Linked DNA regions of Homo sapiens. The protein of the gene in region 1 purifies or fractionates together with the protein of each later gene. This does not show direct contact. Each region holds a gene or a part of one and is shown in the gene's direction. Other genes may lie near its edges.

Region 1 (3,733 bases):
AGATAGAAATCTGTTTTTTTTTTTTTTTTTTTTTTTTTGGAGACAGAGTCTCACTCTGTCACCAGGGTAGAGTGCAATGGCACGATCTTGGCTCATTGCAACCTTCACCTCCTGGGTTCAAGTGATTCTCCTGCCTCAGCCTCCCGAGTACCTGAGACTACAGGTGGGTGCCACCACGCCTGGCTAATTTTTGTATTTTTAGTAGAGACAAGGTTTAACCATGTTGGCCAGGATGGTCTTGATTTCTTGACCTTGTGATCCGCCCGCCTTGGCCTCCCAAAGTGTTGGGATTACAGGCGTGAGCCATTGCACCCGGCCATAAGATGGAAATCTTAGTGGTGACAAATAAAATTTAGATCTTAGTTTAAAAAAACATAGTCAATAATATATTCAATTTTATAGTCTGCTCTCTTTTTCAGGTAACATAAGCATTTTCTTTCTTCCTTTTTTTTTTTTTTTGAGACACGGTTTTACTTTGTTGCCCAGGTTGGAGGGCACTGGCACAATCTTGGCTCACTGCAACCTCCACCTCCCAGGTTCAAGCAATTCTCGTGCCTCAGCCTCCTGAGTAGCCGGGATTACAGGTGCACGCCACCACACCTGGCTGATTTTTTGTATTTTAGTAGAGATGGGGTTTCCCCATGTTGCCCAGGCTGGTCTCGAACTCCTGAGCTCAGGCAATCCGCCCGTCTTGGCCTCCCAAAGTGCTGGGATTACAGGCGTGAGCCACCGTGCCCGGCCACATAAGCATTTTCTTTTTTTTTAACTTTTTTTTTTGAGACGAAGTCTCGCTCTTGTCCCCCAGGCTGGAGTGCAATGGTGCTATCTGGGTTCACTACAACCTCTGCCTCCCGGGTTCAAGCGATTCTCCTGCCTCAGCCTCCCAAGTAGCTGGGATTACAGGCGCCTGCCACCACGCCTGGCTAATTTTTGTATTTTTAGTAGAGACAGGGTTTCACCATGTTGGCCAGGCTGGTCTCGAACTCCTGACCTCAGGTGATCCGCCTGCCTCAGCCTCCCAAAGAAGCATTTTCTTATACAAAAATTTATTAGGCATAATGTGACTTGTACGAATGTATGCCAGTTTTCTTCACCATACCTCTACGGCATTTTTCCATTTCGGTAACTTTTACAAAGAGAGTCATTTGAACAGTATAACAGTGCCAGAATAAGGTATAATTAAAGCACAGTTTATTTGCCCCTTAATCCTGCAGGAAAGGTGAAGTCCAGTGGAACATAGACCTTGTCTTTTTGTTTATCTCCATATTCCTAGGACTTGGAAATATGTCAAGCATGTAATAGATGTTCAAATAAACATTATATATGTAATATATGTATATATATAATTTATTTATTTATTTATTTCAGACGGAGTCTCACTCTGTTGTCCAGACTGGAGTGCAATGGTGTGATCTTGGCTCTGGGTTTGGATTGACAATGTTTTAAGCTATAAACATAGGTCAGATAGGTGGGTGCCCTGGTGACTAGTGAAGATGTGCGATGGCATTGAATGTGATCAACTGTGTTGTGTAGAGAAAGGTAGGCCCAGGGACTTAGGGAGGCCATCTGGGATGGAACATGTATATTTTGAATAGCTTCAGTTTACTCAGCCTGACCATGGTCAGCTAGTTCAAATGGAATTCACAGCTCTGACGTGTGATAACTTTAGTTAAGATAGTTTGTTTTGAAAGGTAAGCAGAGGAAACCACAAAATCAGAATGGGCATTCCTTTGAGGAGGACAAATAAGAAGTGGGTAACTGAAATTGTTCCTACCCGAATGCATTTGTGCTGAATTTCCAAGTATGTAAAAAAATTGTGAAATTACAAATGAAAGTGAAATTTATAGTTATTACCTTTTGTTAGTTACTGTCTCTCTCTCTCTCTCTTTTTATTTTTTCTTTTTTGGTACCGAGTCTCACCCTATTGTCCAGGCTGGAATGCAGTGGTGTGATCTCAGCTCACTGCAACCTCCGCCTCCCGGCTTCAAGTGATTCTCCTGCCTCAGCCTCCCATGCAGCTCATGTAGCTGGGACCACAGGCACACGCCACCACGCCCGGCTACTTTTTATATTTTTAGTAGAGACATTGTTTCGCCACGCTGACCAGGATGGTCTTGAACTCCTGACCTCAGGTGATCCGCCCGCCTTGGCCTCCCAAAGTGCTGAGATTACAGGCATGAGCCACCGCACCTGGTCTCTCTTTTTATTTTTGAGACAGGATCTTGCTTTGTCACCCAGGCTGGAGTGCAGTGGCACAATCACTTGGCTAACTGCAGCCTTGACCTCCTGGGCTCAAGCAATCCTCCTGCCTCAGCCTCCCCAGTAGCTGGGACTACAGGTGTGTGCCACCACACCTGGCTAATGTTTTATTTTTCTTTTGTAGAGAGGGAGTCTCACTATGTTGACCAGGTTGGTGTCGAACTTCTGACCTCAAGAGATCCTCCCACCTCAGCCTTCCAAAGTGTTGGGATTACAGATGTGAGCCACCATGCCTGGCATTATTTTTCTTTTTCTGTAACTGTAATTTTATATTGTGGTCTTACTCAGTTGCCCATTTGCCTGCCATGAGTACACAAATAATACTGTTTATGGTCTACTTTCACATACATGGTGAAATTACAAGAGCAGAAGGCCCCTGTACACACTCAAGGGAAAAACAATAGTACTCAAAGTAAAGAAAATCAAGTTATTGGGCTTCCTATAAAACAAAAGGGTTTGAATCAGAAAGCAGCAGAAAAGTCAAATAAATTTTCCTTATGACTGTCAACTTAAAAATCACAAGATCTATAAATTTAGAAAGGAGACTTTCTTTTTTAAAACATTTTCTTTTCTTTTTTTTTTTTTGAGACAGAGTCTCACTCTGTTGCCCAGGCTGGAGTGCAGTGGCGTGATCTCAGCTCACTGCAACCTCCGCCTCCCAGGTTCAAGTGATTCTCCTGCCTCAGCCTCCCGAGTAGCTGGGATTACAGGCGCATACTACCATGCTCGGCTAATTTTTGTTTGTTTGTTTGTTTGTTTTTTTTTTGAGACAGAGTTTCGCTCTTGTCACCCAGACTGGAGTGCAATGGTGCGATCTCAGCTCACTGCAACCTCCTCCACCCAGGTTCAAGCAATTATCCTGCCTGAGCCTCCTGAGTACCTGGGATTACAAGTGCCCACAACCACGCCCGGCTAATTTTTGTATTTTTAGTAGAGATGGGATTTCACCATGTTCGCCAGGCTGGTCTTAAACTGCTGACCTCAGGTGATCCACCCGCCTTGGCCTCCCAAAGTGCTGGGATTACAGGTGTGAGCCACTATGCCCAGCCTAACTTTTGTATTTTTTAGTAGAGACAGGGTTTCATCATGTTGGCCAGGCTGGTCTCAAACTCCTGACCTCAGGTGTTCCGCCTGCCTCAGCCTTCCAAAGTGCTGGGATTACAGGCATGAGCCATTGCACCTGGCCAAAATTTTTCTTACCTTTCGAGTCGGAGTCTCACTCTGTTGCCCAGACCGGAGTGCAGTGGCACGATCTGGGCTCACTGCAACCTCTGCCTCCCAGGTTCAAGTGATTCTCGTGCTTCAGCCCCGCAAGTAGCTGGGATTACAGGTGCCTGCCACCACACCTGGCTAATTTTTTATTTTTAGTAGAGACAGGGTTTCACCATGTTGGCCAGGCTGGTCTCGAACTCCTGATCTTAAGTGATCTGCCTGCATTGGCTGCCCAAAGTGCTGGGATTATAGGCGTGAGCCA
Region 2 (3,500 bases), on another chromosome or scaffold:
CAAACATTTAAAAATGCCAACTTTGCTGGTAATCAGAGGAGAGGCATGTTAAGTTAAAACAACATTGAAATACCATTTCCTTCCTCAAGATTGGCACACATTTTGACATGACAATTTCTGTTGGCCAGAGTATGGGAAAACAGGTGTCCTCATAAACTGCTCTTGGGAGTGAAAATTGGTATCACAACTTTGGAGGATAATTTGACAGTAGGTGTCAAAAAAGATTTTATTATTTTTTTATTTTTTTTTGAGATGGAGTCTCACTCTGTTGCCCAGGCTGGAGTGCAGTGGTGCAATCTTGGCTCACTGCAACCTCCATCTCCCGGGTTCAAGTGATTCTCCTGCCTCAGCCTCCCGAGTAGCTGGGATTACAGGGATGCGCCACCATGCCCGGCTAATTTTGTATTTTTAGTAGAGACGGGGTTTCACCATGTTGGCCAGGCTGGTCACGAACTCCTGACCTCAAGTGATCTGCCCACCTCGGCCTCCCAAAGTGCTGGGATTACAGGTGTGAGCCACCACACCCGCCAGATGTCAAAAATTTTCATGGGCACAGCCCGTGATCCAGAAGTTCCGCTTCTCAATGTATACCCAAGATAAATGCTTGCATGAGGAGACATTTGCAGGAGTGTTTATTGCAGCCTTATTTGTAGTATTGGATGCCCCCCAAATGTTTGTCAGTGAGAAGGCACTGCCCCTGGGTCATGTGCACACCATGAGATGGAGCATTTGAGCCTCGGCTCGCTGGGACACATGGATTAGTGAAAAGGGCAGATTGCAGAACAGGATGGGCTAGTCTATTTCCATTCTTATGTTTAAAAAGAAAACTCAATCAACACCAGCCTGGGCAATGTGGCGAGACCCTGTCTCTACAAAAAATACAAAAAAATTAGCCAGGCATAGTGGCACGTGCCTGTGGTCCCAGCTACGAGGGAGGCTAAGGTGGGAGGATGGCTTAAGCCCAGGAGGTTGGAGTTTGCAGTGAGCTAAGATTACACCACTGCACCCCATCCTGAGTAACAGAACTAGACCCTATCTCAAAAAAGAAAGAAAAAGAAAACTCAAAACAAAAAAAGGAAACAGACAGGTAGTTGCCAGTGGCTGGAGTGGGAAGAGGATTTGATGATGAAGTGGCATGAGCGAATTTTCGAGGGTGATGGAATTGTTTTCTTTTTTCTTTTTGAGACAGAGTCTCACTCTGTCACACTAGGCTGGAGTGCAGTGGCATGATCTCAGCTCACTGCAACCTCTGCCTCTCAGGTTCAAGCAATTCTCCTGCCTTAGCCTCCCGAGTAGCTGGGATTACAGGCACCTGCCACCACGCCTGGCTAAGTTTTGCATTTTGTTAGTAGAGACGGGGTTTCACCATGCTGGCCAGTCTGGTCTCGAACTCCTGAACTCAAGTGATCCACTTGTCTCAGCCTCCCAAAGTGCTGGGATTACAGGCATGAGCCACCGCGCCCAGCCAGAATTGTTTTCTATCTTAATTGTGTTTAGAGGTTACAGAACTCTATGCATATATAAAGATTCATAGAATTGTTCACTAACATTGGGTGAATTAGAGTAAATAGATTATACTTGATTAAAAAAATGTTTATATATGCACACAAATACAAATATATTTCTTTCCCAAAGGCACAAATTATATATGTACAGATGCATGCCTTGGGCCTGATAATGACAGTTACACCTGACAGGAGGTGTGGGGTGGGAGGGGAACCAGGGTTAGGCTGGAGTGGTCAGTAGATGCTTTAGTTTTTTATACCATGTTTCAAACTTTTACAAGGAGAATATATTGAGATGTTATCTGTATAATTGAAGATTAATTTTAAAATTATATTCCTACCATTAGTATAGGCAAAATCCTATTTATAGGTTGCTGCTTTTATAATTCAGAGACTGATCCTGTTCTCAAAACAGGATAACTAAATAGAAGGACCATTCAAAAAATACCTGTGTGCCAGGCGCAGTGGCTCACGCCTATAATCCCAGCACTTTGGGAGGCCGAGTCGGGTGGATGCTTGAGCTCAGGAGTTTGAGACCATCCTGGGTAACATAGCAAGACCTTGTCTCTACCAAAAATACAAAAAATTAGCCAGGCATGGTGGTGCGTGCCTGCAGTCTCAGCAACTTAGGAGGCTGAGGTGGGAGGATCACTAGAGCCCAGGAGGTCGCGGCTGCAGTGAGCTGAGATTGTGCCACTGCACTCCAGCGTGGGCAAGAGTGAGACTCCATCACAAAGAAAAAACTTGTGTGGGCCGGGCGCAGTGGCTCATGCCTATAATCCCAGCACTTTGGGAGGCCGAGGCAAATGGATCACCTGAGGTCAGGAGTTCGAGACCAGCTTGGCCAATATGGTGAAACCCTGTCTCTATTAAAAATACAGAAAATCAGCCGGGTGTGGTGGTGGGTGCCTGTAATCCCAGCTACTCAGGAGGCTGAGGCAGGAGAATTGCTTGAACCCAGGAGGTGGAGGTTGCAGTGAGCCAAGATTGTGCCATTATTGCACTCCAGCCTGGGCAACAAGAGCAAAACTCCGTCTCAAAAAAAAAAAAAAAAAAGAAGAACCTAACTCTTGTGTATATGTGTATTGCTGTTTAATTACATCAATAATAAATTAATTAATTAAACACCAATAATTACATTACATTATTGATGTTTAATACCTGCTCCTTGTTATAAATTTAAACAATACAGACAATTACAAACCAAGTGAATGTCAACCCTTCCACCCTGCACTCCCGTTGCCTGGAGGTAGTCATCATTAACTGATTAATGACTGTCCTTCTTGACCTTTGACTCAATACCTTCACACATATGCTCAGAGTTGAGTTTTCTTGATGATGTTTTTGCAAAAGTAGAATCATGCTACACACAGGTGAGGGATCTCACACATTCGCCCCATTGGCGGTTGTGTAATAGTCCACTGTATGGATGCACCATGACTTACGGACAGATGTTGATAGATGTATGAGTTATTTCCAGTGTTTTTGCTCTTTTGAATAATTCTGCAGGAAGTTGTACCCACACCTTTGTGCACTGTGAGTATTTTGGTGGACTGGAACCGGGTGCTGTAGGTGTGTTACGCAGACATCCATGGGCATCAGATATCCCATTTCCTGCTCTGCTCTTCAGACCACCATCCCTGCTCAGGGCTGCATCCCAGAACTGTCTTGAAGAGCCCCTCCTACAGTGCCATGCACACAGTGACAGCCCAGGGGTTCTCATCAGGTGTCCACTGGAACCACCTGGTGCCCTTGATCAATACGGATCCCCTCATCCCCCGACCCCACCATTCTGAGGCAGTGGTCTGGGGTGGGCCAGAGTTTGTATAACATCAGGCCACCCGGGGGTTCCTGGTGCCCATGCCAGGGAGAACCACTGCTGCCACCCTCTCTTGACCACTGTCTTTTTTTCCTCCCAGAACAGGTTCTCAGACTATGAGAAGAGGAAGGTAAGAAAATGCCTTTACCCTTCTGTCACTCTTTTCTCATTAAAGA
Region 3 (3,733 bases), on another chromosome or scaffold:
TTCTTAAAATATCTTCTCTTCTGTTTGCTTCCTTCATGTCTTTCTTCTCTGAATAAAGTCAGGTTAATTTTTGGATGAAATACATCATCTCCATTGCATCTGTTTGTATGTAGATGCCCTTCTCTGCCCAGCCTAATACTTATAATATGGACTGGAAACTGAAAATGAGCTTACAAGCTGTGTTTTTTTTCCTCATGCTTTTGTTTTGTTTCATCTGTGTGATAATCTACAGATATCTACTCATAAACTCTGAGAAATAAAGTAATATGTTAGAAGAATGAAGTAAATGATTTCTTAGTTAATATAACTACCATGTTTCATTTTGTTACCAATCATAATTTTTAAAAAGGATTTTAAAAATGCTGAATTTTACTTGGCTAGGTGTCATTTCTATGTGTAAAAACAAGCCAAAGGCAGGACCTGTATTCTAAATGGATTATTATTTACTAAATTTAGCTTCCTAGTCCTTAGCATGCTATTTGTCTTTTCTTGCTCTTGGCTCTTGATTGAATAACCTCTCAGTCTTTTTCTTTTCCCCAGTTAGCCTTATATATACACCAAGCTCTTGATCTGAACTACCTACTTACATTTTTTCAGAATTGGCTATTATATAATGATAGTAGTTATTATTATTGAGTGCTTACTATCTCAGTCATTCTCAGAGAGTATATTCTTGAGAATAACATCAACCCCATTTTATAGGTGAGGAAGGAAACTAAGGCATAGGAAGATAACCTAGCTAATAAGGTTATATCTAGCATTGTGACAATTTCTTTTTCTTATTCTGAACTTAATGCCGTAATTGCAGCTCCCATTATGAAATATGGCTTTATTAAAGAACTTCAAGTTACCACTCAGTCTCATTTGTTGGCTCTTCTTCCTTTAATAGCAACACGCCCTAGGACTTCATCCTTGACCCATTTCCCTTTTCCCTCCTGTATACTCTTTTCGGTTGACCATATCTAAATTTGTAACATCACTTGCCATATATTGGCTGATGACTCCAAAATTTGTTATCTCCAGTGTGAACCCCTGTCCTAATGTAAGTAAACAAATGCCTCTATCTTAAACACACATCCTTGAATATCCCATAGGAACCTTATACCCAACATCTCCAAAATGGAAATCATCACGTTTAACTCCAAACTTACTCTTTTTCTTGCATTCTCTCTCTCAGTTGACATCAATACCAGCTGTCCATTTACTCAAGTCAGAAATCTGGTTGTCGTACTAGACTGCTCTTTTTTTCTTTTCTGGACTCTTAACATCCAGTCAGTGTCTAAGAATTTCTTGTATTTATCTTCTTTTCTCCATTGTCATGATCTCTTGAGGAATGATAGAGGGTACAGAACAAAGCAAAGACTAATGATGATAATAGTAACATAGGTATAAACCCTTGAATTTTTGTATTGTACTTAGAACTTTAGAAGCATCTTTATATGTATATTATCTCATGATTTTAGAATAAAGGGGAAGATGTAACAGAAAAGCACTGGCCTGAGAATGACATTCCTGTGGTGGGATATAGGATAATAAGGCTGAGTTTTCTTACATGAGTAAGAAAATTGACTGTGGAAGGAATCCAGAAATGTTTTAGTAACCTTGAATAAAGCTTTTCTAGTTGAGGTAAAAATTCATAAGGGAAAAATATTATTTGTGCAAAGCAAGTTTGTGTATTTTTGTATAATGATGGGTTCATTTAATTTTAAAAGCTTCCCTCTAAATGAAATATGCATTCGAAACGATTTAAAAAAGTAGTTTATACTTAAAATGTTCCTAAGGGAACTATTTTGAAGGTTAGAAATGATTGTGAAAAGATCAGTCTCATTTCAAATTCCATACAAAGCAGCCAGTCCTTCGAAGTGTTGAATGAGAAGCAAAGTCAGGAGGTTGTAATACCTTATTAAATATATTTCATGGCCCCAAGTTTTCCCAGAAGCCCGTTGAAAGGGTCTTAGAAAGTTGTTGCTCCACAGAATTGTCCCTTACTTCCTTGGAATGATGAAGATACTCCTTTATCTGCTGATTTGGTGTAATAATGACATACTAGGAATTTATGAATATTTTAAGATATAAAAACCATGTATTGGAAATTATGAACTGTGGCATTTTAAATAATATTTTGAGATACTGATTCCTAAGTTATCCTGCATAATCAGTTAATGCATATTTTACAAAACATAATGCCATGTAGATCCATTGTTTATTTGATAAAACATTACTTGTGATTATTTCTTTACAAAGTCTGGCATTGGTTGGTCAGCAGTACAATATCCTCTTCTTATACTGTTATTTTTCTAAGAAATTATATTTTAAATGTGTGTCATTTCACCTGTAAAATTTTCCCCATAAGTATTAATCAGATCAGGAGTTTGTGGAATAACATATGTTTTGGACATTGCATTTTTAGAAGAATGTTGACAAACTGGACAGGAAATTGGTGAGGTTACATAGAAACTGCAATGAGATGATGGCGACTGTGCCTTGACATGCTTATTGTTGATACCACCATTACCAGTATTCTTTCACCCGTCTCTGCTGCAGCTACCCACACCTGTTTTATCTAGCCAGGATAGTAGCCCCTTTGTTTACTTCCATTCTGTCTCATGGGATGAGAAGTCCCTCCACCTTTTCAGCCTATCCCATTTAATTCTGTGTTTCTTCCCCAGATTAGTGCAAGGATGGAAGCTTGGGTTGTAGGATTCTGAGGTCTCTGGAAATTACTGGTTCTGTTATTTTTCAGCATAAATTAGTCTAGGAATCATAACAATTTTATAAGATGAGATAGCAGGTTTTAATAGCACATAATGTATAGTAAACTGTGGACTTCTTGCTTTTTCAGCCAAAGATGTAACTTATATATGTCCATTCACTGGCGCTGTACGAGGAACTCTGACTGTCACGAATTATAGGTTATATTTCAAAAGCATGGAACGGGTAAGAGTCAGATTAGATTTTTGTATGTACATGAGTGTGTTGTTTGTAGCTAGTTTTGTTCATTTCTGATCATTTCTAATTAAAGCATTTCTGATTAAGATTTTGATCAGCTCTATAATTGGACAGTATTAATTGCTCAGTTTTAATTATTTTTTCTTTCCTTCTTTAGGATCCCCCATTTGTTTTAGATGCTTCCCTTGGTGTGATAAATAGAGTAGAAAAAATTGGTGGTGCTTCTAGTCGAGGTGAAAATTCTTATGGACTAGAAACTGTGTGTAAGGTAAATGTTATAATATGTATGTGATTTTCTTTGGTTTGAAAAGCTTTGTATTAAATAGAACCTCTGTTTTGAAATTGGTTTCTAAAATATAAAATGGATTTCCAATTAGAAATGTTATTTTAGTATGACATTGATAGAAGAAAACAAAATTTAGCAGTAATAGAAAAGGTGATTCATGAATTAGACTTAATTCTTTTGGGCCCAGTTCAGTCTACATATTTTGATATATTCACAAATTCATAACTTATTTTTTAATAATGATCATCTTGGCCGGACATGGTGGCTCACGCCTATAATCCCAACACTTTCAGAGACTGAGGCAGGTGGATCACATCAGGTCAAGAGTTCGAGATCAGTCTGGCCAACATGATGAAAACGCATCTCTACTAAAAATACAAAAATTAACCAGGCGTGGTGGCGGGCACCTGTAATCTCAGCTATTGGGGAGGCTGAGGCAGGAGAATTGCTTGAACCTGGGAGGCGGATGTTGCAGTGAGCCAAGATAGTGCCACTGCA

What was found.
Region 2: the proteins of CTPS2 (region 1) and LRSAM1 fractionate together in Homo sapiens (co-fractionation; one large-scale study listed by BioGRID). This does not show direct contact.
Region 3: the proteins of CTPS2 (region 1) and MTMR2 fractionate together in Homo sapiens (co-fractionation; one large-scale study listed by BioGRID). This does not show direct contact.

What each region holds. Positions count from the first base shown.
Region 1 is NC_000023.11:16,706,154-16,709,886, reverse strand, and holds part of CTPS2 (CTP synthase 2), read left to right. Parts: intron 1-46; exon of another isoform or gene 47-76; coding exon of another isoform or gene 77-163; intron 164-1,368; exon of another isoform or gene 1,369-1,468; intron 1,469-2,389; exon of another isoform or gene 2,390-2,478; intron 2,479-3,733. UniProt on the Homo sapiens protein: Catalyzes the ATP-dependent amination of UTP to CTP with either L-glutamine or ammonia as the source of nitrogen. Constitutes the rate-limiting enzyme in the synthesis of cytosine nucleotides.
Region 2 is NC_000009.12:127,475,510-127,479,009, forward strand, and holds part of LRSAM1 (E3 ubiquitin-protein ligase LRSAM1), read left to right. Parts: intron 1-3,424; coding exon 3,425-3,454; intron 3,455-3,500.
Region 3 is NC_000011.10:95,861,476-95,865,208, reverse strand, and holds part of MTMR2 (phosphatidylinositol-3,5-bisphosphate 3-phosphatase MTMR2), read left to right. Parts: intron 1-2,842; coding exon 2,843-2,937; intron 2,938-3,106; coding exon 3,107-3,217; intron 3,218-3,733. UniProt on the Homo sapiens protein: Lipid phosphatase that specifically dephosphorylates the D-3 position of phosphatidylinositol 3-phosphate and phosphatidylinositol 3,5-bisphosphate, generating phosphatidylinositol and phosphatidylinositol 5-phosphate.